Linked DNA regions of Homo sapiens: region 1 is linked to region 2. Evidence: fine-mapped expression QTL. A gene starts in region 2. The other region holds a variant in brackets. All regions are shown on one strand. Distances are from middle to middle.

The links. PIP is the estimated chance that this variant, and not a neighbour inherited with it, causes the effect.
Region 1: its variant is fine-mapped to the expression of NCALD in whole blood (TOPMed, PIP 0.97).

Annotation. Positions count from the first base shown.
Region 1 is chr8:102,122,692-102,125,600 of GRCh38, forward strand. It overlaps MIR5680 (microRNA 5680), which reads left to right and starts at 2,741; the gene lies at 2,741-2,824. It also overlaps a transcript of NCALD not described here. RefSeq lists silencers at 1,026-1,215, 1,586-1,645. The variant C/A (reference allele first, on the strand shown) is at 1,590.
Region 2 is chr8:101,789,214-101,792,122 of GRCh38, forward strand. NCALD (neurocalcin delta) reads right to left here and starts at 1,756. Exons shown (of 4, transcript NM_032041.3): 1 at 1,649-1,756.

The DNA.
Region 1 (2,909 bases), 330 kb after region 2:
ATGCCTCACATCAGAAAACACAGTAGAGGTTAAGTAAGGACCCCAAGATCCAGGAGCTATTGACGAATGAGCCACAGCTCAAACCCGGCTGTCTGGCTGCAGAGCCCACACTCCTAATGTCCATATTGGCAACTCTCCTAATACAGTTACAGACAGAGGGTCTACAGGACTGGACACTGAATGGTTGAGACAGGGGAGACTCCAGGACAATTTCCAGAGATCTGGCTTGGGTAGGTAAACATGTGAATTTCAGTTTCTTGAGCCTCCTCCCCAGATCTGTCCTTGCCCCGCTACCGCAAGTACCCACACTCCCACCATCACACCACACCCCCTCTCCTTTGTAGTCTGCATCAAGGCCTTTGGCCATAAAACACGGGGATCTCCCAATTGGAGTGAAAAACCTCACAAGCATTTCCACTTAGGTCTGAGAAACCCCTGACAGCAAACTCTGCTCTTGGTAATACAGTGGCTTAGGTCTGTTATTTTCAAATCAGCCAGAAGTAGGAAAACTTTGAGCGAGCTTGTGTGGTTTCCTTCTGAGAGAGTGAGACCTTGGCTGCCTACTTCTGTGTTTCACCGTAGCTGCCCTACGGAACAGAACATAGACCTTCTTGCGGGGCTAGCGTGTAAGCACAGCAGCACACCAGCCGCCTCGCCTGCGGCCTCCGACAGACCCGCAGGAAGAAACTGACCCTGGCAGGAGCTCTGCAGAGCCAAATGGCATTCTTTCTCCATGCACAAAAGTTAAAGCAAGCATCTGCAGCATTAGAAAAAAAAAAAAAAAACTTGTGTATTTCCTGCGGACAGGGAGACCTCCTGCCCCTCCCGGGCTGATACAACCCACTTTGCACATCCTGCTTCTCTGGGAGCTAAAAATAAATCGGTATGCACTGAAAAACACTCAAACACATCTCCCCAGCACACCCTTCCCAAGTCCTCGAGCGCAAGGGACACGAATCTTTCAGGTCCTGAGTCCAAAATGCAGACCACTTCCTCGTCCGTGTTCAACCAGCGCCTTTCGGCCTCTCCCTTGGCCCCCTCCCCAGACGCCCACGCCCCGCACTCGCCTCCTGTGGCCTTTCCGGGCAGACTCCGCAGGCCCGGGATCCAGCGGGTGCCCCGGCCCCCGGCCCCGGCCCCGGCCCCCGGGGCGGGATGCTCCAGAGGTCCCCGGGCCGCCAGGCTCACCAACGCCCCCTTCTGCCCAGCGCGCCCCATCCCGCCGGCCCCACGCGCCTCTGCGCGGCCCTCTGCAAAGTTGCTCTCTCCTTTTCTGCCGCCCACCCTCAAGGTCTGTAATTTTGTTTTGTTTTCCCTCAGAGGCACTGGGGGAATGACAGAGGAATTGACAGGGTGAACTGCACCCAGGAGGGAGCTGCTGGAACCAGGTTCCCAGAACCGCGCGCTCCTCGAACCCACCCCTGCGCCCGCGGCGCACCGAGCGCACGGGTCCCCCCCAGCAGCCGCCCCCGGCACACCCGCCCCGGCTGCAACTCCGACTCCGCTCTGGCTCCCGAGAAGCGGAGGGAAGGCGCTGCGACTCACCGCCTCGGCCGCTCCCAGCGTCTGTGTCGCTTCGGGCGAGGCGG[C/A]GGCAGCAGCGGCAGCGCCTTCCCTCCGCCCGCCTCCCCCTGGACAGCACCGTCGCCAGCCGCGCCCCCCTCCCCAGCCTGGCTCGCCGCCTCCCTCCTCGCGGCCGCAGACCCCCTCTCCACTGCAGCCCCGCAGGCAGCCTCTCCGGCGTGGGCTTCACCGCGGGGTTGCAGGGGGGCCAAGATGAGGCGCGGGATTTGCAGGTGCAGTGGACGCCCCCCCCCTCCCCCGCTTGCCCTGGTGCAGCCTCCGGGCGTGTCCCCACGGTGCCCCATAGTCCTAGCTCACCGCCCAGGCCTCTAGCCAGCCTGCACTGCTACTTTCCAAGGGGTGCCATCTGCTTGCCTCCTCGGGTCCTGGGAGGTCAGATTCAGCCTAGAGCACCTCCTTCCAAGCTTCGATTTGAGGGGGGGTCTGGGGTCCCTGCTCTACCGCAGTGAAGTTCAAGGGAGCCTTGGAAGGCAGTTGAAAAGCTTCTCAGGTGGTGTCCTCTGGACTCTTCATGCCCACAAGGTGGGAGGGGGGCTGCTTTTGTCTAACTAGTGCTTTCTCTACCCAAAGCCTTCTGTAAACTGTCTAGGAAAAGCTTAACAAAAAATCCGGAGGAAGACATCTAAGGGGCCCCTCTCCTGCCCCTCCTTCCTCCCCTCAAATTTTTCATCTCGTGTGGAGATAATGAGAAGCAAAATGTCTTGTCAATTCATTCACCCAATATTTATCGAGTACCTGCTGGCTGCCAGCACCTGTTTCCTGTCTTGCTGTGTCGTCCACTCATGGCCTCTCAAAAAGCCACTGTAACTAACTCCTTGTGCTTGTCAACCCTGGTGACATTTCCAGAACCCGCAGAAGGTCTCAAGAGCAACTCAAATTCATCAATTTAAAAAGTTGCTGCTTAAAAATAACAAGGCTGCAAAGGCACCGTGACCTGGCCTTCCTCGTTGTAATGTTTGCAAAATCTTTTAACATGACTGGTTATAGAAAGGACAGTTACATTGAGGTCCAGACAGCTGCCAACTCTGATTTAAACACCAAGTAAAAGTTTCATCTAATCAAAAGCACCCTTTCCTAGCTCTACCGGTTGCCTTCAATTGTAAAACAAAAATTATCTAGGAGGCTGTTAAACCATCATCAAATACTAAAACCTTTGCTTGCATTGGGTTAGCAGGTTAGCCCAGCATTTCCCTTCCTGGACACACAGGAGGAGAAATGCTGGACTAATCTGCTAATCCAATGCAAGCAAAAATTTGCATTGGAAAGTTGGATTTTTTGGTTTTTGGTTTTTTCTTTTTTCTTAATACTAGGCCCGACCCCGAGAGAAT
Region 2 (2,909 bases):
GTCTTATCTGTGCTCAACTGAAATGTTACATATAAATTATCATTTTTCTAGGGGTGTTAAGAATATGGCCTCTGGGTTATTATAATTTTGAGATCAATTAAGTGATGAGATTATGTCTCAGTAGATGTGCCTGGAATGAAAGCACATTAGACTTTTGGAAAATCCTCCACGGAGACCCTGACCAAAAACAGACATGTCAAATGCCAGCAAGTTAAATGAATATTCACTCATTGAAAGCTACTGAGAAATTATTGATATACCCACAGTTATTCACTTATTACTGTAGCTAAATACTGTTCAAAATTTTTCACCTCCAAGAGTAAAATAAATGCTATTAGAATTCTGAAACTAATAAAGAACATAAAAATTAAAACAATATATTCTTGCACTAAATTACGATATAATTCACACACTGTGAATATATGGTATTCATATATACAGTTAAACCAGTTTCTTCTACTAATTAAAATACTAGCTGTATTACATGTAGTGCTCTAAAATTTGCCCCTTTTTCTGTTAAACTTGTAAGATTTAGACACCTGGTTATAAATCTAGACTTTGGCTAACTTCAGTACTACAGGTATTCTTTAAATTAGAAGCTCCAAAACAATTCAACCTGTATGTCATGAAAGAAAATCTGAAATTACTAAACTTGGGAAGGAAAGGAACTACAATACAAAGAAAACAATTTGTAGTAAATAGTATTATAGGAATAAAGAGATAAAAATTCTTATTAATCACAGTTATCAAATTATTCATTTAAGATCCAGAGCAAATTGTGAGTGACTACTTCTATCTGTGTTTGAGTTAAAGTAGAACTTGTGTCAATGATACTTTTCATTTTAGGGCTATTGTTTTTTTCTTTAGGTAATTATGACGATTTTTAAAAATAACAACAGCTTACATGACTCCTTAGTAAAGACCACCTCATGCCATTCTCTTCACAGCTGAATTTTCAGGGGAGGATACTGGAAATATGCACTTTGCTCTAACAACCAAAAAGCAATTGCATGCACACATGTAAAAGGTTCCACCCCAACTTCCTTGGCATATTCCCGATTATTTCTCTCTAAACAGGAAACTGTTGACAATTTTTCCTGGTACTTTCAGAATACCAAAGGTTTTACTTACAAGCAAAATCCCAACTTTTGTTTCAGTTATAATGTTATTTCCCGTGGTTCCTATTGTTGCTAAATATGAATGCTGCAAACAAGATAGAAACCAAATTCCAAACTATTTTAGGCTGATTCAGAATTGAGTAGCAATTGTAAAAAGAAAAGTTAGAAACACATTGCAAGGCTATGCTGGAGTTTTTAAACCCAAAACAATACTGAAGGGAGGATTCCTGGAATTCAAGAGAGAATATTTGGCTCAAGCTGCAAAATCCGTATGTCTAAATAATGTTATGTTAGCAAGTGTTGAGCAAGCAAGACGATTATATTTTAACCTACTTCACAAAACATTAATCCAAATTTAACCAAATTCCAGAGAACCTGCCTGAAATTCACAACTAGAAGCTGCTTCACATTTTCCCCTTGGTACAACAATAATTGCTCATGAATACAAACTTGTAGGAGGTAAGAGAGAGGGGAAAACCACAATGAGCTATAAAAACATCTAACTATTGTATATAAAGCAAACTAATTACCTCACTCAGAAGAAGTGCAAGATTTAACAGTCCATGCTCTGCAGCCCCTGGAAACAGCAGTAGCAGCAGCAGCAAGGTCCAGCATCCACCAGATTCTCACAAGCCTTTGACTGTGTGGACTCAGCCACAGACTCTGCCTCTAGCTGACGTCAAAGTCCCTGTCACATGGCCAGATGAAAGCCAAGAGATCATTGGTTGTCGTAGCAACCACAGACCGGCTCTGAAATTATTTCAATAGGTCATCTGTCACTGTGGTGTGTGTGTGTGAGAGAGAGAGTATGTGTGTACGCACACACCATAGAACCATCACGGACAGCTCCTTGACAACCTCAACCCCCGAAGTTGTGACTCCAGAATGCCTACAACTTTCCTCTTTAAGGCTTTGGTGTCTTTTCTCTACAGTTACTTGCAGGAAAATATATGCCACCCTGAAGTTCTCATTTGTTTCACTACCATCAGCATGAAGCATGTCTCTCTCTCTCTCTTTCTCTATAACAAAAGGAAAGAAACTGAAAAATTCTGGAGTAGTTTTCTTAGCCAATTAAACTTATTTGCAAGCAAATATATAAAAACAGAAGCTCAGGGGGAGGGGTTGGAAGAAAATGTATTTTAAAAACTATATCAGAGTCTACATGGATATACTGAGACCATGCTTGTGATGGAAAGAAAAATAAAAAACAGTGGCTTGGGTTCATGACAGTGGCTTATGACTCAGAGACAGGTAAGACAGTCTAATGATCCTGACACCAAGTAGGATGTAGACATCAGATAACATAAATTCAGGATTCCTGTACTGTAAAATGTCTAGGTAAAAATGAGGACCGAAGGAGTTTCAAAACAGTGTTACTTTAAAATAACCATGTGAGTAAGCTGAAAACTGTGCTTTGGGGCCATACGGGTGCCAAATGCTCCCCTCTTGAGTCCTCTCATCCACACCCCTTTGCTGAGACTCAACATTGAGTAAACAGGGCCAGTGTTCCACAAACACAAAGTGTAATGAAAGCCCAGAGCCATAGAATGAAAGGGTTATCTCACATGTTTTCTAACATCAGCTTTATTTCCTTTACGACGACCCTAGCTTACTTTTAACTCTGCACACGTGCCTATTTCCCAGTTAATTCTCTTTCTTAATTAATGGGAAGCCGATTAAACAAAATCAATGAAACTCACAAGAAGGTACTCTGAAAAAGACATTCAGAAAATGTATGCCCAAACAAAGGACAAGGAGTTAAAAGGCAGGGGAGAAGAGACTGCCCTCAAA